Homo sapiens: one gene and its partner. The protein of the gene in region 1 interacts with the protein of each later gene in a biochemical or structural test. Each region holds a gene or a part of one and is shown in the gene's direction. Other genes may lie near its edges. The genes, in order: TRAF3IP1 and UBXN10.

Evidence for each region.
Region 2: the proteins of TRAF3IP1 (region 1) and UBXN10 form a complex in vitro, tested with the Homo sapiens proteins (one study listed by BioGRID).

What each region holds. Positions count from the first base shown.
Region 1 is NC_000002.12:238,334,643-238,351,602, forward strand, and holds part of TRAF3IP1 (TRAF3-interacting protein 1), read left to right. Parts: intron 1-2,109; coding exon of another isoform or gene 2,110-2,211; intron 2,212-3,719; coding exon 3,720-3,815; intron 3,816-9,158; exon of another isoform or gene 9,159-9,412; coding exon of another isoform or gene 9,413-9,539; intron 9,540-9,854; coding exon 9,855-9,956; intron 9,957-12,812; coding exon 12,813-12,833; intron 12,834-14,121; coding exon 14,122-14,206; intron 14,207-14,682; coding exon 14,683-14,766; intron 14,767-16,960.
Region 2 is NC_000001.11:20,182,102-20,189,095, forward strand, and holds the start of UBXN10 (UBX domain-containing protein 10), read left to right. Parts: upstream 1-3,994; 5' UTR 3,995-4,052; exon of another isoform or gene 4,053-6,519; intron 6,520-6,994. UniProt on the Homo sapiens protein: VCP/p97-binding protein required for ciliogenesis. Acts as a tethering factor that facilitates recruitment of VCP/p97 to the intraflagellar transport complex B (IFT-B) in cilia.

The sequences.
Region 1 (16,960 bases):
AAATCATCCTTTTCCTAAAGTGTGTAAGTTAAAGAAGGGTGGCAAGATGTAGTAGTGGGAATTTTCGCCTTAGAAAGGAGGCTTAGATGGTAGGTTCCACATGTGCACAATAATTAGTAATGCGTTTGTGACCAGCTTAGTGCCAGAAGCCTTTGCTGTCTTTTGGTTGACCGCTGTGGGGTAGGTTTCCAGAAGCGCAGTGGCTGGCACAAAGGGTGTGGCATTATGGCTACTGCGTGCCCTTAATGACCCTTCACCCCACACCTTCTCCAGTGTTGTTAAGGCATGCTGATTTTGATGGACGAAAAACAAAAACGTTGATGACCAGTGAAATGGTCCTTGTCATCGCGTGTGAGTGTTTTGGGCGTCTCTGACCTGCCTGTTCTTTGGTTTCTCTGGGTTCTTACTGATTTGCTTGCACGTGCTGTATGTTAAGGACATCTGCCAATTTGCCAGTTTTTGCATGAGTGTTTCTTTTTCAGTTTGTTTCTACTAATTATATTTGGTTTGGTTTCTGATTTGCCTAAGTGTTAAACTGTTATGTGCTTGAGGCCTCTAATCTTTTTTTTGGTAATCTGTCCAGAGATTTGAGAGGTGAAGATTTGTGCTTTATCATACATTTTTTTTTACTTAATTTCTTATGTTATCTCTTACTTTAATTCATGGTATAAGGTGAGGCTCTGAATCTATTTTGTCAGAATAATCCATCCGTGGTTCCAGGATCACTTATTCATTGAATGCTTCTCTCCTGCTCTGTGAAGCCTTTTGTAGTCTGGGTTACGGGCTTTTTTGTGTGTGGTGTTTTTTACTTCCACTTTTTTATTTTTACTATTAGTTTTCTATCATTGTTCTTTTCCAAAAAGTTTTAAGCCATCTTATTTGCTTATTCTTCCGGATGAATTTTAAAAACTCTTCATGACTCAAGAATTCCACTCTTGCAAAATAAACTAACGTCTCAGAATTTAACTGGACTTGTGTTAAATATATGCTTTCATTAGTTTAGGAAGTTTAGGCACCTCTAACTTCAGCTTAGTGAAGGTGTCCCCCTCTTCTGAGAACACGTTGCGTGTACTTGGTTGCGTATGTTGGTCACAGTGGTTGCTCGCTGGTTTATTTTATTTTATTTTATTTATTTATTTATTTATTTATTTATTTATTTATTTATTTATTTATTTTGAGACGGAGTCTCACTCTGTTGCCAGACTGGAGTGCAGTGGCGCAATCATGGCTCACTGCAACCTCACTGCAAGTGATTCTTCTGCCTCAGCCTCCTGAGTAGCTGGGATTACATGTGTATGCCACCACGCCCAGCTAATTTTTTGTATTTTTAGTAGAGACAGGGTTTTACCATGTTGGCCAGGCTGGTCTCGAACTCTTGACCTCAAGTGATCTGCCCGCCTCAGCCTCCCAAAGTGCTGGGATTACAGCTGTAAGCCACTGTGCCTGGCCTGTTGTTGCCTCTTAATCCAGTAGTTCTTCTGTTGATTCTTTTGGCTTTCCTAAGCAGACAGTTGTATCATCTGCTCTTCTTTTCTAATTGCTTCTGATATGTGCATCTGTGTTTACTGGTGAGCTTGTGCTCTAGGGTTCTTTTGTATGGTCTTAAGAGATTTTATTAGCAGACATTTATGGGCTTTTTGACACTGAGCTTCCCTGAGCTATCAACAGCTCAGTGGACTCCTGTCTTCCCCTCCTGCTAGCCGGGCACTGACCTCCCTGTGGGTTCCCCAGCAAAGCTGGCACTCTGCCTGAACATTCTGCCTCGCTTAAGTAGGTTCTCATTTGGGCAAATGCTCAGTACCCAGAGGTGTGTGACACACTGGACCTCTGTGTCTTGCTCAAGGGGATGAATGAGACTTTACTACAGGGTGTGAGGGTATCACATTGTTAAACATATTTAGACTCTTAAAGTCATTCTGGAATCCCTGCAGAATCCAGAAAGCATTCTGCCTGAGAATATTATAATTTTTGCTTATTTCTAAGTAGTGCATACAGAGCTGATCACTTTGACTTAATGAGTACATTTTAATTTCATTTGTTTGTTAACTGCTTTACATTACATTACAGATTAAGTTTAATATATATTTTCATTGTGCAATTTTATGTCAGGAAGAAGGGACCCTAAAACCAGTGAAAATAGTCTTTCCCCTGAAAAGGAACATAACTTTTCCTACTGTAAAGCTAAGAAGGAACATAGCATGAAACAGCTTGGTAAGCTAAGTGAACCATAGTGGAGGCTGTGAGTGAATGTTGAGAGTTGAAAGCTTTACTGCCTGGTCCTGTGCTTCTGCTTGGTCATTGAACATGTGGAAGTCTGTGGGGGTGGTTGGCATAGGTGTGGCCCTGCTTGACCTGGGGCCTGCGCTCTAGAACACTGCCTTCTGGCCAGGGTGGAGAGGGGGCAGAGGGACATGTTGGCCCCATGCAGGGCTGCCCCTGGCCAGGTGAGGATTTCCTACCCTGAGTCAATCACAGGCTTAAATTGTCCATTTGAGCCTTCCTTCACTGATTCTGCAGACATTTATGATAATAAAGAGAACACAGGGGTACATATGTGCATGTTAGTTTGTGATGAATCTTCAAGGAAAATGAAGCCAAGAGGAGCAGGAATGAGGGGCGTGAGCAGGGAGGGCCTCTCTGAGGGAGGACATCTGGACAGAGAGCTGACTTGGGTGAAGGAGGACATGCAGGTGTGTGAGTGGTGAGGTGGGTGGAGAGAGGAACAGTGATAGGGGAAAGGGCCGGGCCAGGAAGCAGGGCCTGGAGCTGCTGGTCCCGGAGCTGCTGTTCCCGGTCCACAGCAGCTGTGTGGTTTACAGTGAGTGCACACAGAAGTCCTTGAAGAGTTTTAAGCAGCACCGAGGCAAGATTTGACTTAGGTTGTAGAAGGCCTCCTTTTAAAACTGTGGAGTGGCAGGAGTAAAGGCTGCAGCGCAGCGAGGAGGGGGCCATGGCATCTGGATGAGAGGAGGTGATGGTTTGGACCAGAGTGCCAGTGGTGACAGCAGAGTGGGTTTACTGTGCTGGCAGGTTGGATGCCACTTGTTTGAACGGAAAGGAATCAAAGATGAGATTCATTGTGGGAGGGGTCTGGGCTCCTAGGGGGTGGCCTTTATTGACATAGACGGTTCTGGGAGACACTGGTTGGTGGAATGGGTGGCAGTGTTAGGAATTCTGTGTTGGACAACAAATTTGAGATGGCTATGGACCAACCAAGTAGAAACATCTAGTCGACAGCTGGATATATTGACTTGGAGATCAGGAGAGAGCTGGAGAAACCAAAGGGAAAAACAAAAAATGGAGAGTTCTAGCATACAAGTGATGTTTACGGACATGGACCTTTGCGCAGTAATTAGTCCAGGGGCGTGTGTAGGTAGGAAAGGACGTGGTGAACTCCAGAGCTTGCTGTGGTCCCCCAGGTCAGAAGAGGAAGAGGAGGAGGAGGAAGAGGAGGAGGGAGGATCATCCTTGCAAAGGAAACAGAAGGCCAACAAGTTGGAGGAAAACTTGGAGAGGAAGAAAGTGTTAGGGAAGGAGAGGGGGCTTCTTGTCAAGCTCTAAGGAGGGGAATCATGTGGAGGCTGAGAATTGACCATTTAGTTGACAAGACAGTTTGCTGGTGACCTTGGTGTAATGTAACCCTTATAAATCCCAGCTAAAACAACCAAACACAAAATCTTTTATAATATTTTAATCTGTTGTTAACTATTTTATGTCAGGAAGGAAGGAGGATAATATTTCAGCTAAAAGTTTAGACTCCATAGTGTCTGGAATAAATAATGAGCCAAATCAGGAAACGACAACATCAGAAATAGGTAAGAAAAATATATTCTTTAGTTTAAATTCCTCACCACTTTAATGTGAATGGTTATATCTCAATGTAGTTATACATTGTTAAAAAATTATTCTAACTACTTTAATGTTCATGAGACTTTTTCATGATGTATTGAAGACTGGACATAACTTGAGGTTTTATTTGCTTTAATATGCTAAGTTATGTAACTTTATTAACTCAGCTTTTAGTTAATTATATGCCTTTTTATACATAGATTATTTTTACATTTCAGTCAAAATGCTTTCTTAATCTTGCTGTCGGGATCTCACAGTGGTGTGGCTGATGACATAGAGAAACGGTTTTTATGTCTTCGTCCTGCTCTGCTTTATTCTACTCAGAAAATGCTCGCAGTAGAGATGTTTAAAGTGCTAGTTAGGCACGTTGGGGAAGTTGGCCTGTCACAGCCAATCACATTCAGTCCAGCCGTGTGGTGGGTGTGCCCAGCCCTCGTCCTGCTGCCTCAGAGGGGGTGGTCCTTGGTTCAGTATCAGTAACCACTGTCATCTGTGACTTCAGACGGAATTCTTCAAGATGCTAGAATTCTTCAGTTTCACTTAAGGTAAAAATAGTGTAAAATTAGACTTTAGGGGAAGAGGAAATTTTTGCTGGGCCCAACTTGCCTTGTATCTGTCTGACTTTTACACGTTCTGGAGCGTAGCTGGAATACCGATCAGCACATCCTTCTCTCTCTGTGTGCGTTCCCCTGAGAGCTGGCATTTCCAGGAGTGGGCGCACTTGGTACAGCAGCCGCAGTGTGAAAGATGATCTGTGGTTATTTTATTCCAAGTAGGGTGACTATATGGGAGTTGTCTGGGTCTTCAGTAGCATGGGATGGCGGAGGAAAAGGTGACTGAGCTGGAGCAGGGTGTTTCCACTGAAGAGAGCCCCTGCCATACAGGCATGCATGTTACCATTCAACCACATCTTGGTGATGTATGTTTTCTTTTTGTGGGAGCTTTCCTCATCTCCAGGCGCCTGGGGGGAAACACCCAGGCACACTGCAATCCTGCACTGCAGGAGAGGGCAGCAGGCAGTGGCGAAAGCCTGAGGGGTGGACTCCTGGTAGCCCCCACCCAGCTAGCTAGGACCTCATCTCTGAGGCCACAGGGATGACTCCCCACTTCCTGCTTACCTGCCTCATGGCCTTGAGCCAGCCACGTGAGTGGGTTCTCTGAGCCACAGTTTCCTCGTCATAAATGGGCGTAAAGATACCTGCCTTGAGGGTGAACGAGGTGTCCATTAAGTGGTGGCTTGCCCCAGGCACGCCGCGGTCTAACCCGCTTTATCACGGATCACCTCTGCTGAGCTGCCAGCCCCAGATCAGGGCGAGACAGCGCTCATCCTGAGATGGGCAATGGATTTAGAACAAATTGAAATCATTCTCCAGACACGTAGTGAGGACTGTGTAGGTAATATCAACAAGTGTGAAGATAACACAAACCCAGGCAGTAAGAAGCACAAACTGCAAACGTGGTTTCTGGGTTGAACTTTTTGCAGAGATTGGGATGGAGCCTGATGCCACCTGCTGGGGAGCAGAGTCTCCCGCTGTCCTTGGGTGGCAGTGTGCGGTGGGTGGCGGGGCGGGGGGGTTGGGAACAGTGGCCAGGAGCAGAGTCTGGGCTCTGGAGAGACTCCCGGTCCCTTGTCTTTCTCCTCCCCCCGACCCTGGCCCTGCTCCCCTAGGGTCCTGCCACAGCGCGGACCTGGGGTCTCTGTCCTCGCAGTTGCAGGTGTTACCTTGCACTGGTCATGGTTTAACATTTGGAATTCAGAGTTTGCTGGCAGTTGTTACAGTTCCTTAATTTCTTCATTGAGGGTGCACTGCTATTGGGTCTGGTTAATGAGCTGGTCCTCACAGTACCTTTCCTTCTTAGTGCTTCGAAGAAAAGTCCATGTTGTCAAAGCCGGCCTTTGTTGCACTGACTGACCCGGCCCTCGTGAGCCCTGTGCCCATAGCCTGGGTCATCATCAGAGAATTTGTGGGTTTTATTGTTACCATTTTGATTTTTTGGGTGGATTAAAGAGTTCAACAAGGAATTTATCCATTTCTTTTTCAAAACATGAACAATTTCTTCCTGTACTCCAGTTGTTATGCAAGCTGTAAGGCATGCTTTGTTCGCTTTACAATTGTGTGACAGTTCCAGGTTTTTCTGGAACATTAAGTCAGGTCTTTATTTTGCTTAGTTTCCCTCATTTCATTTTTGCTTACTTCTCTAACTGTTTCTATTGTGAAAAATATGGAAAAGTAGAAAGAATAGTACAACTAGTGCCCATATACCTCTCACCCAGATTCACTAGTTTTACGTTTGCCATTTTGCTTAATGTACAGTTATGCGTGTGTGTGTGTGTGTGTGTGTATATATATATATAGAGAGAGAGAGACAGAGAGACAGAGACAGAGACAGAGTCTCACTCTGTTGCTCAGGCTCGGGTACAGTGGCATGATCTCAGCTCACTGCAACCTCCGCCTCCCGGGTTCAAGCGATTCTTCTGCCTCAGCCTCCTGAGTAGCTGGGACTACAGGTGTGTGCCACGATACCCGGCTTCTTATGTGTATTTTTGAGACAGGGCTTTGCTCTGTCACTCAGCCTGGAGTGCAGTGGTATGATCATAGCTCACTGCAGTCTTGAACTCCTTGGCTCAAGTGATCCTCCTGCCTCAGCCTCTTGACTAGCTAGGACTACAGGCATGTGTCACCATGCCTAGCTAATTTTTTTTTTTTTTTTGTAGAGAGAGCATCTCACTTTGTTGCCTAGGCTGGTTTGAACTCCTGGGCTCAAGTGATCCTTTCACCTCAGACTCCCAAAGTGCTGGGATTACAGGCATAAGCCAGCAGACCCAGCATATAGTTACATATTTTAATGAACTGTTTCAAAGTATGTTAAAAAAACATCCTAACACTTTATCTCTAAATACTTCGACATGCAGCTTTAAAAAAAAGTACATTTTCCTACATAGCCAGAAAAGTATTGTCTAACTGAACTCAGTTATTGCTTCCTGATAGCATCTAAAACCCAAGCTGTATTCTAATTGTCCCAGAAATGTTTTTCTATTCTTTTTTTTTTTTTTAAAAAAAAAACACTGGCTATTTGATGACATTTAACTTAGTGTAGCTAAAATTTGCGCAGAACACTGGCCGAATGATGGACCTCTTTCAATTGTATTTATGGGCCGTACGTCTGATTAGTTTCAATAACAGTGACTGATAGGGACTGGCCCCTCCCAGCCGGGCACAGTGCTCCTTGCTGTATGCACAAGATCTCATTTGACTCAGGATGGCTCTGTGAGGCGGGGCAAACTGGGCAAACTGCGGCTCAGGAAGGCTGAGGGACCTGACCAAAGCATAGCCCATGGAGAGAGGAAGCGCCAGTGTTCCACCCTAGGGCGTCTTGAGCCAGGGCTCACATTCTCACCTACAAGGTTCATTGGTTACCAGGTAGCTCTAGAAAACAGATTGTGCTTATGCTGTGACTCTTTTTTTTTTATTTTGCCAATTCATAGTCATTTTTATTTTATTTTATTTCTTTTTTGAGATGGAGTCTCACTCTATTGCCAGGTTGGAGTGCAGTAGTGTGATCTTGGCTCACTGCAACCTCCACCTCCTAGGTTCAGGGGATTCTCATGTCTCAGCCTCCTGAGTAGCTGGGATTACAGGCGTGTGCCACTAGGTTCAGCTAATTTTTGTGTTTTCAGTAGAGATGGGGTTTCACCATGTTGGCCAGACTGGTCTCAAACTCCTGAGCTCAGGTGATCCACCTGTCTGGGCCTCTCAAAGTGCTGGGATTACAGGTGTGAGCCACCGCTCCTGGCCGTCATTTTCATTTTATAAGTGCATTATTTATTTGTTTAAAACTATTATTTGACAAATTGGTTAGTCCCTTCTCTGTGATTATGAATTGATTCTACAGTGTGGTATAATTAGTGAGCTATAGTCTGTTTTCATGTTCTTTCTCTCGGTGTGAACTTGGGGTTTAGTAAAGCTTACATAAGAATACCACTAGAACTTTGAAAAGGTAAAATTGTGAAAGTGTCATTGGTCTCTGAACTACAGAATGAAGATAATGCATTTATAATTTGCTTACTGTGATGGTGAATATGGTAGAGTATGGAAAACATTTGACACTTTGAAATCAAGTACACAACTTAAAATTATTAGAGTGTTTTCTTCTAAAGTTGAGCATCTACAACCGCCAAACTTATGTTTATTTTTAGATTTTTTTTTGTTAAGAACTTAATATTTCATGTTTATTCTCTGGTTACCCTGAGTAAAATATAAATAACTGTTTGAATCAGACTATTTAAGTCAGTATCATTTTCACAGATTGATAAAAATGTCTTTGCAAAATTATGTGTCATCTATTTTATGTAGTTCTATTACATTATAAATAAAACAGTTATATGATAGTTAATGTCAGGTTGATTCTGATGTAAGCTGTTTTGAATAGTTTTAAGAATTATAAGATTGTGTTTCAGGAAAGGGAACATTTTACAATTTTATTTTTGTCTCTCAGTTTCTTTTTAGAGTGGTAGGTCCTTTGACTGAAGCTAGTTTTCCAGCTCTGGGTCCTGCTGTAATATAGAACCTATTCCTCTAGCCCCTCATCTGGGCCCCCTATTTTTTTTTTTTTGAGACAGAGTCTGGCTCTGTCACCAGGCTGGAGTGCAGTGGCACGATCTCGCTCACTGCAACCTCTGCTTCCCGGGTCCAAGAGATTCTCCTGCCTTAGCCTCCCGAGTGGCTGGGACTACAGGCATGTGCCACCACACCCGGCTAATTTTTCTATTTTTAGTAGAGATGGGGTTTCACCATGTTGGCCAGGATGGTCTCGCTCTCTTGAGCTCATGATCCACCGGCCTCAGCCTCCCAAAGTGCTGGGATTATAGGCGTGAGCCACCACACCTGGCTCCTACCCTTTTTTTTTCAGACATGATCTCGCTCTTACATGCAGGCTGGAGAGTGGTGGCATGATCATGGCTCACTGCAGCCTCGACCTCCTGGGCTCACGTGATTCTCTTGCCTCAGCCTCCTGGGTAGCTGGGACTACAGGCACCTGCCACCATGCCTAGCTAATTTTTGTAGATATGAGGTTTCGCTATGTTGCCCAGGCTGGTGCCTGCCTTGGCCTCCTAAAGTGTTGAGACTTCAGGCATGAGCCACTGTGCTTGGCCTTTTTTTTTTTTTTTTTTTTCCCCGAGATAGGGTCTTACTCTTTGCCCTGGGCTGGAGTGCAGTGGCGTGATCACAGCTTATTGCAGCCTAAACTCCTGGACTCAAGTGATCCTACCATCTCAGCCTCCTGAGTAGCTGGGACTACGGGTGTGTGTAACCATGCTTGGCTAGCTTTTTAAATTTTATATTTTTTTGTGTAGACGAGTTCTCTCTGTGTTACCTAGGTTGTCTTTACTCCTGGGTTCAAGTGATCCTCCCACCTAGGCCTCCCAAAATGCGGGGATTATAGGTGTGAGCCACTGTGCCCAGCCTGTTTTTTTTTTCACAGCAAAAATATTTTCTCAGGTATTTGATATTTTTTCTATCTTCATAAACTTTGGAACATCAGTCAGTAATTAGTAGACAATATGTGGAAGTTTTCAATATGGCCAGGACTGTGCACTGTGTCCAAAATATTTTTCTTTTCTTCCTGCATTCCTGAAACAGCCGCCTACTTGCAGCCTCTCAGCTGCTGGGTCTGGCTCTACTGGGGAGGTGAGTGGAGACTGGCAGTGTCAGGTAGCTCCAGAAATGGGGGGCGGGGGCAGTCTGCTCCTCCTGGCCTGAGTAGACCAAGGATCCACTCATAGTCTGGGGTGTCCTTTCCCTTTCACCCCAGAGCCGCCCATGGGGGAGGAACATTCTAGATGCATGTTTTCTAAAAGCTGCCTTTGGTCAGTCCTTTGTCAGTCCTAACTTGCAGTGTGGGAAAACATAGATAAGTAAGTGTGCTCTATGTTAATGAAGCCGCTGATCACCGGCCCTTTGGTGTACAGTCTTAATGACTAATTTTAAACTGTTTTATGTCAGGAACAAAAGAAGCTAATATTAACTCAACTAGTATTTCAGATGATAATTCAGCTAGTCTGCGGTGTGAGAATATTCAGCCCAACCCCACAGAGAAGCAGAAAGGTAAGAATGGTCCAGTTTCGCCCTTTCCTGGCGAGAGCAGAGTGAGCCCTCCAGAACCTTCTTCTCAAAGGGCCGCAGCCCAGAGCCCGAGGTTTTCCTCTTGGGTCTGAACGTGGCAAGTGATTCACAGTGATTCACTTCTGCCTTTTTGCATAAACTAGAATCGAACATGGTGGTTTCTTGATAGCATGGGACCCACTCGTGTGCTCCCCCGTGCTCTGTAAGTGAGAGGAGGTGGCATGTTTCATCACTTGGGGGGTGTCATGAGTGGTCCCTGAAAAGTTTCGGGGTCACTACTTGGAGAGCCCCACCAGTCAAGAGGTGTACCCCCCAGACTTCATGGTCACAGTGCTGTGGCCACCATGATTTTTCTGTCTGTCATTTTCTTTGAGTGTTGAATTATACCTCAGTGGGATTTTACTTTCACCATAAATTTTCTCAGCCTTTAAAAAAACTTTGGTAAAATAGCCATTCAATGTTTGTGTTTTGAGGCCTTGGAGCTCCTAACAGGCCTGCAAGGGTACCAGTGCCCAGGTAACCAAGGCTTGTGCAGGTGGCAGCGGCAGGGTGGGGTGTGGCCAGGGGAGGGCTGATGTTTGTTGATTTGTTCAAACAGAAAATTATCTGTTGAAGGCCTACTGCATGTCAGCCCTGAGGCTGGGAGCGCATGAGCCAGTGAAGTCAGGCTGGCCTCCTGCCTTCCTGGTGCAGATGAGGCTCGAAGATCAACCGAAATCGTTTGATGGGGTGGCAGTCTGGGACGGGAGGGGCCTTGGTTGGTGAGGGTGGCCCAGAAAGCCTGCAGGGCAGAAGGGGCTGTATAAACCAAGATCCCGGCTGGGATGCGACTGCAGCAGGGCTGGCTCAGCCCAGAGGAAGGGCCAGAGCCAGGTCCCTGTGCCAGCTTATGGAGTTTAGCCTTTATTGGAAGAGCAGCGGGAGGCTAATTATATCTTTAGGAGGAGCAGTATAATGATATTTAGATTTTAAAGAGTGGCCATGTTAATTAGGGAGGGTTAAAGATTGTGCAGAGAAGAGAGAGAGGCCTGGACTGTGGAGGCGCCCTGGGAGGGGAGAAGTGGTAGGATTCCAGGGCTGCTGGCACGTGCTGGGGGAGCTGGCCTGGAGCGTAGAGGGAAGGCCCAGGCTAGAGAGGAGCTGTGAGAGTTGCTGGCGCTGGGTGATGGCAGGAGCCTGGGTGGGGACTGGGTCACCTAGGACGAGATTGTGAGTGCAGGAGCTGGCAGAGCACTGGCGCTGTGGAAGCACAGGCGTCGGGGAGGATGGTGTGGGCCATGTGGCAGGTGCCTTGGGTTCTGGGTAACGGGGACTGGAAGTATCCATTGAAAGGTAGAGAGTTCACTGTGCTGACTTTCCTTCTGGGTATCGGCCTTGTGGTTGAATAACTGCACCTCTCAGGCACCTTTTTGAGTGCTGTGTTAATCCAGGGTCTGTTCCTAACACCCTGGTGTTTTGAAGAAAGAGCCGGGGATTTGAAACTGTGTCTGCTGCCTGCCCCCAGGTCGCACGAGGACTCTCAGTGCTGGTTTCTGCTAAGCACACGCTCCAGGCCGCACAGCCATGAGGAAAAGATCTTCTGCCACCTGCTCTTGGTCCCCAGCAGTCCCATCCCAGGGTTGAGCTGAGTCCTCTGCCCCCATTGGCCCAAAGTGCTGGGGTCTCTGAAACTGCCCTTGTAGTGGCACTATCTGGAACCACATTCTCCAGCCCCCTGCTAACCACTGTGCCCTCCAGTCCCCTAGGCCCTGGTGGGTGCCAGGCTACCCCCTGTGCTGTGGCACTTTGTGGGGTGTGACCTCTGGAGGTTCTCAGGCCCATACTAATAGAGTCCTCTAGAGCCTCCCGGTTCCCCTTGATCCACAAGCTTGGCCCCCTCTCTCCCTGCCAGAGCCACCCTCTTAAGGCAGCATTTATGAGCTCGTGGCTGTTATGCTCACAGAAAGTCCTCCTGTGAATAAACGAGCTAGAGGTGTCTGTAGAGTGCTCCTCACTCTGCTCGGTGTGGACCCTCACAATAACCCAGGCTGATTTCTCGAGGCTGCATGAACTGTTCCTGTCTGAGGCGGGGCCGTGTTAAACGAGGCGCTGCATCAGGCCCTGCTGCCTCCTCTCTGCCGTATAGTGTGCTGGGCTGTCATGTGAATCCATGCGCTTTCTGCTCTTCTGCAAATGCGTTCGTGCATCTTAAGAGTGTGAAACAGAGATTTCCCACCTGTGGTTTTGAATCACCCCACCCCTGTGGTGCCACTGCTCATTTACTTTGACCGTTTAGGTCACATTTGTCCTCAAGACAACACTTGAAGAAAAAGGATCCTGGGTGAAGGTGCAGAGGTGGGCCTCTGTTGAGCTGGAAGATTTTCTTCTGCTTTCAGGAGCTGATGGAAAAATGCTTACCAATCATGTCTATAAGATGGGCTGTTGTTGACTGTCTCCCAGTCTTTGGAACGGCCCGGGATTTGGTTGGCCGGGTTCAGACTGTTGCATCGTTCCCTCACATTTGGATGCACTTTTTCTGTGGCTCTGGCTTTGTCGATTCTTGTCTCATGAACTTGTTAACTTCCTCTCCGATGTGCTTTCTCCACATCCCTGTGTCCTGTTTCTATTTAGTACCATTTTATGATGCACAGTTTGTTTGCTCTTTGTTTTTCTATCTTTGAAAATAAAACAAAATGGCAATAGGGACATTAGAAAAGCGGCTATGAGGAAATGATCTTTTTTTCTTAGCAGACATCCAAAATTATGTACAGTGTGTTTTTTCTCCAATTCTGTTCTCATCATTTAATGTATTGAGGTTGACTACACGAAAGCTAATTTTCTGATGTGCTTTTTCTTTAGGTGACTCCACCAGTGATGCAGGTGAGGAATGGCCTTAGATACCTGTGTGTCATATCAATTGTATGCATGTGTGTGAATGTGAATGTGGACTCTCAGATTCATGCTTTATAAAGTGCATTAGTGAAAGTAACTTATTTTATGGAAAAAGATCATAACTACCCTAATGTATTTATTTATTTATTTATTTTTTGAGATGGAGTTTCACTCTTGTTGCCCAGGCTGGAGTGCAATGGCATGATCTCGGTTCACCGCAACCTCTGCCTCCCGGGTTCAAGCAATTCTCCTGCCTCAGCCTCCTGAGTAGCTGGGATTACAGGCATGCACCACCACGCCCGGCTAATTTTGTATTTTTAGTAGAGACGGGGTTTCTCCATGTTGGTCAAGCTGGTCTCGAACTCCTGACCTCAGGTGATCCACCTGCCTCGGCCTCCCAAAGTTCTGGGATTACAGGTGTGAGTTACTGCGCCTGGCCAACTACCCTAATTTAATTTGAAATTTAATTTATATGTTTTAAGTTTGAAAACAATACATTTCAGGATTTTTTTCCAGAATATAAAGTATATTTCTAATATTCAAATTCTGACTATTTTCTGAAGTGTTAATTCCTTTTACTTTAAATAGTGGAGTAAACTTGTCTTAATAGTTTAGGCCTTGTTATTTACTGATTAATTCTTTTTATCAAAATGAAGAAAACTTTGTTCAGATTATAAACATAATATGGTATACCAATGTAGAAAAATTTAAAAATGCAAAAAAAAAAGAACAAAAATTAAAAGCACTGGTAATTCTACTGCTTATAACTTAAATGAATATTCTTCTAGAACCCTGTATATATATATATGCATATGTATATAATTGTTAGATATATTACTGTACTGGATTGTTTCACACAAAAGGGAGCTGACATGTGACTGTACCATAATTTACTTAGTTACTGATTGATTGTCAGTATTACCAGTGACGATGGGTGAACATCTTGACATGTGTCCATTTCTCCTCTTGGGTTGTATTTCCTTTAAGTGCTCAGTTGATCAGCCTGCCTTTTGAATTTTATTTCTGAAGTAGTTGAACCAGTTTGTATTCCCTGGGTTTGAGTGTGCCCATTTTCCCAAATCTTCACTGAGTTTAGATATCAGACATCGATTTTCTCTTCATCAACATGATTGATGGAAAAATTGCTCATTTGTATTTGCAATTACAAATGTATTTGATTGCAAATAACTGCAAATACAGATGCAAATAGTATTTTCAAATAGTTATCTATGTGTGTTTTCCTTTGTGAATTGCTAATTGATTGTCATTTGTTTAGAAGGAGATGCTGGACCTGCTGGCCAAGATAAGTCTGAGGTGCCAGAGACTCCAGAAATTCCTAATGAGCTTTCATCCAACATCAGGTCTGTGTGCTTTGAATCCCTTTCCCTCAGCAGAGTGATCACACCTAGGACACTGCTGTGCTTCTCTTTCTGGCTGCTGCTATTTATTTAGTGCTTGAGCTAACTTATGAGGAATTACTTATACAAAGAATACAAGAAGTATATCAGTTTTCTGTACTGGAGTTATATCACTATATAGTGATATAATATTTTGGAGATTTAGGGGAATTCAAAATTATAGCTGAATTATGTGATGTTTTGATTAGTGACAGTTGTTGGTATTTTGAAATTACTGAAAATACAAGTGGAAAGATGGACACTTTCTGATTGGTCGGGTTACTGGGACGTTCCTCCTCTTCTGCAGAGTAGCGTGTCCTAACCAGCACATTGATTATGGCTTGGAGATGAGAGTTAACATTCACCTGGGCTTTCTTTTCCAGTTTGAAATGTATAAGCCTTTCATACTCCTTTTTTGGTTTTCCAATATTTGGGTTTAGAAGAATTCCTCGGCCTGGGAGTGCAAGACCAGCCCCTCCCCGGGTCAAACGGCAAGACAGCATGGAGGCGCTACAAATGGATAGGTAAGGCTGGCTCAGCAGGGCAGTTCCAGCCACACAGTGTGTTCTCCAGTGGGCATGGTGCCTCCGCTAAGAGAAGGGGGAGGGAAGCAGCACATGGTGCTGGAAACATGCTATTGAGGAACAAAAAGTGAGGGTAGGCCCTCGCCTCACACCATAGGCCAACAGACATGTCAGATGGATGAAAGAGAAAAACCATGCATACATGTAAAATACATCTTCACATCTATGGGAAAATGTTGGACTGCATTTCTCTGACCCCTAGATTGAAGACTTTCTAAGCGTGAAAACAATAGGGGAATTAGGAAAAAATAGGGGAAAAAAATTAGGGGCTTAATTGCAGAAAAATTAAAAATAGAAGGTGATCAAAATGTTATAAGCAGGCTGGGCCTGGTGGTTCACGCCTGTAATCCCAACATTTTGGGAGGCCGAGGCGGGCGGATGGCTTGAGGTCAGGAGTTTGAGACCAGCCTGGCCAATGTGGTGAAACCCCCGTCTCTACTAAAAATACAAAAGTTAGCTGGGCGTGGTGGCGTGTGCCTGTAGTCCCAGCTACTCAGGAGGCTGAGGCAGAAGAATCACTTGAACCTGGGAGGTGGAGGTTATAATGAGCTGAGATTGCACTGCTGTACTCCAGCCTGGGCGACAGAGTGAGACTATCTCAAAAAAAAAAATAAAGTCATAAGCAATATAAAGACAAACAACAGATAGGATGGATCAGAGTGGGTTTCAGATCAAATAAGAGGCAGGGATTGGAGGCAGGAGTAGATGTGTTTTTCTAGGAGTTTTGCCACAAAGAGAAGGGAAGGAATAAGACTAGAAAGTGGGAAAGGTGGTGTCAAGGGGAGTTATTATTTTTCTAATGACGGGAATGATCCAGTGGAAAGGGGAAATTGATGACGTAGGCGACGTGGGACAGGGGTTTGGTGGAGCAGAGTCCCCGTGTGGGTGTGGGAACGGGCGCGGAGGTGGAGTCGGCACATGGTGTGATGCAGATTCTTAAGGTGATTTTCTGGTACTTATTTTTCTCATGAGCCGTAAGAGGGTCTGGGGGAAGAGGAGTGTCAGAGGAGAGAGGGGCTGGGTGAAGTCGCTGTGCACGAGAGTGGGCTAGTGAAGAGACTGGAGCAGAGGTTTTCCTCTAGGGGTGATCCTACTTTGGGGACACTGGGCCATGATCTGGAGACATTTTCTGGTGTTCTGATGAAGGGGAGGGGTTAGGGCAGGGCAGTTGCTGAACCTCCTACAATGCACAGGACAGTCTCCACCACAAAGGAGGATGGGCTGCCTGCCCATAGTGCCTGGGCGGAGGCCGTGGCTGACAGCTGACTTCAGGGCAGCATCTGGTGGACTTGGGCGTAAAGAGACAGAAGATGGTGTGGCGGGGCCTGTTCTGCAGCTGCAGTTGGCTACACCTACAGGCACTGGGGGGCACAGGCTGTATTAAACAGGGCTCGGCTGTGCCAAGCAAGTGCACCGAGAGAGAAGGGAAGGAGTAGGAGTATGTGGAAGCGCCACGGTCATGACCAATGTGGGATTTATGCCAGTGAGTGAGGGAGGAGCCCTCGGGGTGAAGGTCAGGAGGAGGCATTAGGATTGAGAGGCTGAAGGTGCCGGATGGATAGAAGGATTGTTGGAGTCAGGTCCTAGGGCGGTGAGCTGGGAATATAGATAGTGGTGGTAAAGGAGTGGGGCGCTTGGATTTGAGGTTGGAGCTTGCTGTTAGTGGTAGTGACAGGGGTGCCCCTGGGAGTGGGCGTCGAGTGTGGGAGGTGGGATCATCCCAGCAGGGTTCAGGGACCCAAGGCCAGGATTTTGGAAGGATCATTTCTCAATACTTGAAATCACAAGTAAGACAGGAGCACCGTTGGTGAGAGTGGCGGGTCCAGGAGGACTGGGTGGGACCATGGGTTGGCAGCTGATGGCAGCAATGATGGGGTCGAGGGTGACAAGATTTAAAGTTGGCAGTTTTTAGGGAGAGTGATCTGGAAGCCGAAGCAAGCATAAGGAAATTACTGACCTTCCCTCTGGGCCCGTGACAAGAGGCCGGTGGGAGGAGCAGCAGCTGCAGCTGAGGGCTGTGGGGAAGCTGTGTCCTGGAGAGCAAGGCGGGACAGAGAGGGCCTGCCGATCACGGCAGGCACAGGGGCGCAGGTGTTGAGGAGGTGGATCGTGGGCCACAGTGAGGGTGTGCTGG
Region 2 (6,994 bases), on another chromosome or scaffold:
TCTGCTTAACAAGACTGGAAAGCAGGCTATACATTTTTGGATATTTTCCAACAATACGGGGAAAATAATAAAAAGCTGTGGTACAGTCATGCACCATATAATGACATTTTGGTCCAATGACAGACCACACATACGATGGTGGTCCCATAAGATTATAAGGTAGCTGCGCTATATAGGCATACCATTTTTTTTATCTTTTATACCATATTTTAAATTGTACCTTTTCTATGTTTAGATCTGTTTGGATACACAAATACTTACTATTGTGTTACAATTGCCATTGTGTTACAGTATTTAGAACGGCAACATGCTGTACAGGTTTGTGGCCTAGGAGCAACAGGCTATACCATATAACCTAGGTGTGTAGCAGGCTAGACCATCTAGGTTTGGGTAAGCACACTCCACAATGTTTGCACAATGAAAAAATCACCTAGCAATGAAGTTGTCAGCATGTATCCCCATGGTTAAGTGACCCATGTCTGTACTTCAAGGGTTAAGTTTCATCATCCAGAAACTTCCCTCTTGCAGATCCCCTTAGGAAGCTGATCACAGGAGCCATGACTAACTGCCAGCCTCTTGGCCTTGCTACTAGAATATCCACCTGGTTCACCTTCTGCTTAAAGGTTATCCATGATCTCAATCCACATGTCTAATGAGACCAAGGACAGGCAGAGCAGGACACTGGCTATAGACTCTGAAATCTAGAAATCACTAATTCAAAATGGGGCCAAACACTCTGTGGGGACAAGCCGCTAAGAAACCGGGGCCCCCGCCTTCAGCAAGCCCCTGGGGAGGTCATTTGGACCCCAAGCCAAATATGGTTGGGGAGGATACCAGTTAGCAGCTTGCTGGATCGCTCAGTGGAAACGCTAGCCTTGGAATCAGCACCACCATCATCATTGCCGAGCACGTATCACAAAGTAAGCATTGTGTGGACAAGGCAGGGGATTCCGAGACAGGCAAGTTCCTGCCTTCAAGGAGCTCATAACCTACTGAAGGAGATGTACACTGTAAGTGAAGATGATGCAACAAGAGTTAGTAGCCCTCACTAAGCACTTGGCACGTGTGTTACCTCATTTCAGCCGCACAACAATCCTGTGCTTATCATCACCATTCTAGAGATGCGGAAACTGACATCCAGCGAAGGTAAATCATTTACCTAACGTCTTCAGCTGGCAAGTGGTGGAGCCAGGATTGATACTCAAGCTTTGACGTCAGAGGCCATGCCTGCAGTCCCCACGACCAGTGCAACGGACAGCACAGATAAGGGCCATGGGGGAACACGCAGGTGAGGAGCTTGGGGGTGGGACTCTGGGGTCCAGGGTGGGCTTTGGAAACTGCTGGATGCAGGTTGTAAAATTGCTCTGCTGCTCCTTCACCAGGGGGAACCCTGAGGCTCCACTGTTTTCTAAAGCAAAGGAGGGCTATGATGCCTCCATTAAGGAGCGTTGTGAAGATGAAGGGAGCCGACCTAGGGAGGGTGCACAGCACCATCTTGGGCATGTTCCACTGGACCAAAGGCGACCAGAGAGAGCACATGAGCTTTTGTGGGGAGGCTGTGGTCAGGAAAGGGCTTCACGGAAGAGGTGGCTTTTAAGATGGGCCTTGAAGGATCAGTCATTTTGGCTTAACTTCAAGGAAGAGAGCAGGGTGGGGCAGGCATGGGCAAAGACACTGGAGATGAAAAAGCTGGGGCCCATCTGGGGAGCAAGCTGGCTGCAGCCCAGGGAGAGAGCTGGAGAGTAGATTGGGACATGGCTAGAAAGGAAGGTGAGTCCACATTTCAGCTGGCAGGGCAATGACCTCTGCCCATGTTTACTGAGATCCACTCTGGGTATGTGCCAGACACCAGGCATTATCAGGTCTGTCCTTTGAAGACATCCTCTTTATAGAAGGTCGGGCACAAAGGCAGCAGAGGCACAGCAATGGACTGGCGCCTTCCTTTCCTCCTCTCCTGCCTCCCCCTGGGGCTGGGCATTACACAACACTGGAGAGCAAAAGGCAGGTACTGCTGACGTTAACTGCATGTACTGCTGACATTAAACAGACCGCCATTTCACTGTGCACTGGCAAAGGCGCGCGTGCGTGCGCACACGCACACACACACACACACACACACACACACACGGTGAGAAGCCAATTTGATTCTCCAAAGGATTGTATAATTCTTAGGTGATTTTAAAATAGCTGATGAAGAATCCACTTTAATCTTTTTTGGGTGGGTGATGAAGGGCTGAAGAGCATCGCTAAGACACTTTTGACAGAATCATTAACAAGAAATAAGCCGTCAGCACTCAGTTGCAAAACCAGCAGCTCCTAAAACCACCATCTTTTACACATTCCGAGGGCCACAGAGGCTTCCTGGATGACCAGAGTGTGTGAGGGGGCAACCCAAAGAAGAGGCCTGGCCCAGACCAGGCCCTCCCCAGCAACTCCCACGGGTCACAGACTTCCCTTCTGAGACGAGCAGAAACACCACCACTGACATGATCTTCTTTCACGACCCATGGAGGAGCAATTCACCTTGGAGAGAATCAGAAGACATTAGAACTGGAGGGAGGGAGGAAAGCAAGGAAGTGTAGGCAGGCAAGTTTGCAGGTCTGATGGCAGAAGGCTGAGGAAGTTTCCATATGATGGCTTCTATTTTCTCTCTGAAGAGGGCAGTAAAGGTATCTTCTAAGAGGGAGGAGGGAGGGAGGTGGGAGAGGGAGAGGTGGGAGGTTTCGCAAGCAAAACAACGTTTTGAAATAGCCATTGAGAAGAAAGGAGAGGCTGGGCGAGGTGGCTCATGTCTGTAATCTCAGCACTTTGGGAGGCTGAGGCGGGAGGATCACTTGAGCCCAAGACTTCAAGACCACCCTCAGCAACATGGCAGAACCCCATTCTACAAAAAATAATAAAAATTAGCCAAGCATGGTGGTGCACGCCTGTAGTCCCAGCTACAAGGGAGGCTGAGCTGGGGAGGTCCAGGCTGCAGTGAGCTGTGATTGCACCACTGCACTCCAGCCTGGGTGAAGGGGCGAGACCCTGTCTCCCCTTAAAAAAGGAAGAAAAAGAAGAAAGGAGGGAGAGAGAACCCAGTGGTCGGTTGGGGATGGAAGTGCAGGGCTGAGAGTCTAACTGAGGTTAGAGACCTCGTGTTTCTGTTACACCAAGGTGTGTGGCTGGCCAAGACTTCTTCAATACCCGTGTGTAGGTGGACTGGTTTGGCTTCAGGTTTCATCAGATGGAAGGAGAGTAGGACTCGGGCAGGGAGGATCCTTTTGAGAATGCCGAGGTAATGGGCCAGGATAGGGAAGAAGCAGATTGATATCGAGGGGGAAAGCGGAGACAGCAATGGACAGGAAACCCAAAGATGGTGAAAAACAGATACAGCGGAAGTGACTCAAGTGGCTGGAAGTGGAAGAGATTGTGGCTGGGGACATCAAAGGAGGTGCAGATGCTGTTGATAAGGTTCCCAGTGTGGCCCCGGAGTGGGAGGCTGATGTGAAAAGAGGTCAGGGAACTGGCGCTGAAAGGGCTGTACTGAGGATGGGGGCCCTGCTCCCCGCAACTCAGATACCCTAGAAGCATCCACTCAGAGTTTAGGGTTCCGAGAATCCATCAGTCCCACAGCCTCATTTTAAAACCAGGGACACTGAGAGGGTCAGGGCCTGACCCAAGGTGAGAAACGGATTTTGAGACTAGTGGTGCTGCTCCCCGCTCCTCCATGCCCCGGCCAGGGCTCTCCCTCTCCCAGACACTCTCCCCCAGAGAGAAACAGAGGCGGTGACGCTAGGAAGAGGAGGAGAGAAGGAGGCCGCGGGTCCCTGTCGCCTCCAGGCCAGGCAATCCACTCCAGGCTCGCAATCCACCGACCTGGAGTTCACGGCCTCCGCCCTCCTGGCCCAGCGGCCCCCACCCGACCCCACCCGACCCCACCCGACCCAGGCCGGTTCCGGTCACGCCGGAAGCACGTGGCCCCCCACCCTGCGGCGTTGCCCGGGAGACCAGGGTTGTTTACCAGCAGGACAGAGCCCGGGCGCAGGCGGCGGATGGAGCGGAACGGCTAGGTGAGAGCGGCTGCCCGATCCCGCGGCCTGCCCTTGGCCTCCGCCAGGCCTGGAAGGGGCCGGGGGAGGCCAGTCCCCGAGACCCCAGCACATCACCCGGGAGGGCCTCCCCAGACCCAGCCCGGGGGACGCAAACCCCGGGAGACAGGCGAGGAGCCTGGAGAAAAGTCTGCTCCCGAGGCAAAGCAAGCCTGGCCAGAGCTCACCTTTACCAAAATAGGGTGACTCCCGGGCTCTGCAGAAACCGAGGGACCTATGCAACCGCTGGGCCATGCCCTCCAGGCTGGGATGTAGCGACGGGGACACAGACCCAGGGAGAGAAAAGGATGTCCCAGTCTCCGGCAGGGCAGAGACGAGAACCAGAGGGCCCCTCCCCCAGTCCTGTGCTCTTTCTCTGAAGTCAATTCTCGCTTTCTAAACGCTCTTTCTCGCCCCTCCCCCAGATCCCTCCTCTGCCTCTTAAGCCTGTTGCCTTCTAGGGCGCTGGAACTTGGACTTAATTGAGTTATCCCCACCACCTCCCTGCCCTTCTGACGCTGGAATCATCCCCAGTTCTCTATCCAAACATTTGATCACTTGGTGGCTTGTGGTTCAGTGTGGCACTCTGCATAGGACAGTGTATTCTAATCCCTAGTTTGGGGTAGAACTGGGAATGGTACCAGAGTTTTTTCATTCTCAGGCCAACCACCATCTCCTGTTGGTTCTTCAGAGCATTTTTATCCTGAAAGCCTGGTGGGGGTGTGGGTTGGGGGGGGCGGGATGGCAACGGATAGGATTAACTGATACAGTTTTAAAAGACCAATTCAAATGTATGTATCTTGGTATATACCAGCAGATGGTATGTAGGTGGTTATATTTTACTGCATATACTGTAGGCTTAGATTTGGGTTGTGAGTGAAATAGGGTGGTCTGACCCTGTGGTGGGTGGTGGGCACCCTTAGAAAGCAGGAGCCCTGCTTTAGCTTCTCCTATCCACATTTCCTTCTTTCCAGTTGATTTGGTGGTGAATCTTAAGGAATGGGCACCTGCCCTTCTGGCAACTTCTTGGAAACAGTTGGCAGTGTTTGCTTCCTGACTCCTAGCAGGCCGCTGGGGTGCAGCTATTGTGTTTAAGTAAACAGGCCACTCGCCTATTCAGCTTGGCAGCTTGATAGATGCCTACGCCTAGATCTTGTCAAATCGGTTTGTGGTTGAGTGGCTGCCAGGCCTAGAGGTGGTGAAGTGAACTGAGCAGGGAGAATCATGGCTGCTGCCTCAATCCTGGACTGAGGGTGGTGGGCAGAGTTCAGGACCTGAGGTGTGAATATAAAGGCACAGTTGGCCCAGATCCCCAAACACCTGTTTCCCCCACCGCCCATCCCTGTGTGATGGGTGCTGGGGAGAGCTGGTGTTCCCTCCGTGTAACAGATGGTCCCTGTGCTCGGGAGGAGGCAGTGGGTTATGAAAGCAGGTTGGATATAATGGTTTTACCTGAAGGAGGTGTTAGTCTCTAAATAACCATGAGTGGGCTCCTAGGAATTAGTCATAATTGAGGTTTTTCTCTGAGATAGCTCACAGTCATGTTATCTTATGACCAGGGTGTCTTGAATATGACACCCCCTGAACATGGATAATTATATGGAACCAAAAGGTATAGAAAGTGCATGCACATACTCAAGTTTTACTGTTAAAAATAATCCCACAGAGAGCCTGTGAGAACACATGACTCTCCTCATCAAAGTTGTTAAGGAAGAGGTTTCTAAGTTACCAAACTCACTGACAGTTAAACCTTCCTGAGGCATGTGTGGGTGTTGGAAGCCAAGCCTGTGATAATTCTGTAGAAGCTGTGGCAAATTAATAGCCATTCCACAAGTGGGGAGGGTGGGCCGAGAGGGGCGTGGGTTTGCCTGTGGAGCTTATCTTTGGCAGAACAGTTGGACAGTTATGACCTTCTCCTGCCATCCTGAGTGAAAGTGCAGAGCTGCTAATTGCCAGAGAAAGACTTGAGAAGGAGACTAAAGGGGGAAAAACACATTCTTCACAGTTGATCAGAAAATAGATGAAATTAACAAGGAGATGGGCAGTCTTTTTTGATGCCAAAAGTTTGCTAAGGAGAAGGCTCCTGAGCTACTAGCAGCCAGACTGGGTGTGAAAGACGAGGGAGAAGTGGAAAATGGGAGTGGAGAGAGACTCAGGCTGTGAGTGGAATGCAGCAGACATAGAGGCCTTTAAAAGAGGGTAGCTTTGTCCAAGATTTTGAATTGAGCAGGACATCAGGAAGATATAGGGATAATGTGTTGCGTTTGGTCCTGGTCTGAGTGGAGAGGAAGCAGATACTCCTTAAAATTAGGCAGCAGTGGTTACATGTGCAGAATGGTGAGGTTAGAATACAAACCCTGAGAGGCTCAGATTACATTGTTCAAGATTTTGTGATGAAAGGAGTGAATTTGCAGGAAGTGCAAATCATTCTGCAGGAAGTGAATCTGAGGTAAGTAAAATGTGGAATTAGAAGAGAAGTGATCAACTCGGGATTTTATTTTCACATGTTTTGAGGCAACTGCGTAGGTGGTAGCTCATTGCAGTCCACCTCCCTGCATTTCTGTGCAGTGGACAGGGCAGGCATGAGTTTCAGGACTCACCCAGCTGGTTAACCAGGAGTAGAATCACCGAGGACACACGGGGAAAAGTTCTAGAGCAAAACAAGGAAGGCTTTTGAACTTAGCACATAGGAAGCACTAAACAGACAACCCGAAGCAAACAACGACGACAACAAAAAACGCTTAACATTTAATTAAGTTTCTACCATGCACTAAGCCTGGTGCTTCCCACCTTACCTACATTATTTCATGTTATTATCCTCATGTTACAGACAAAAAGACTGATGTTCTGAGGTACTTAAGTAATACCTCTAAGATCATTTAGCTAATTTGATAGATGAGGAAAGTTTTGTGCCAGAAAGGTAG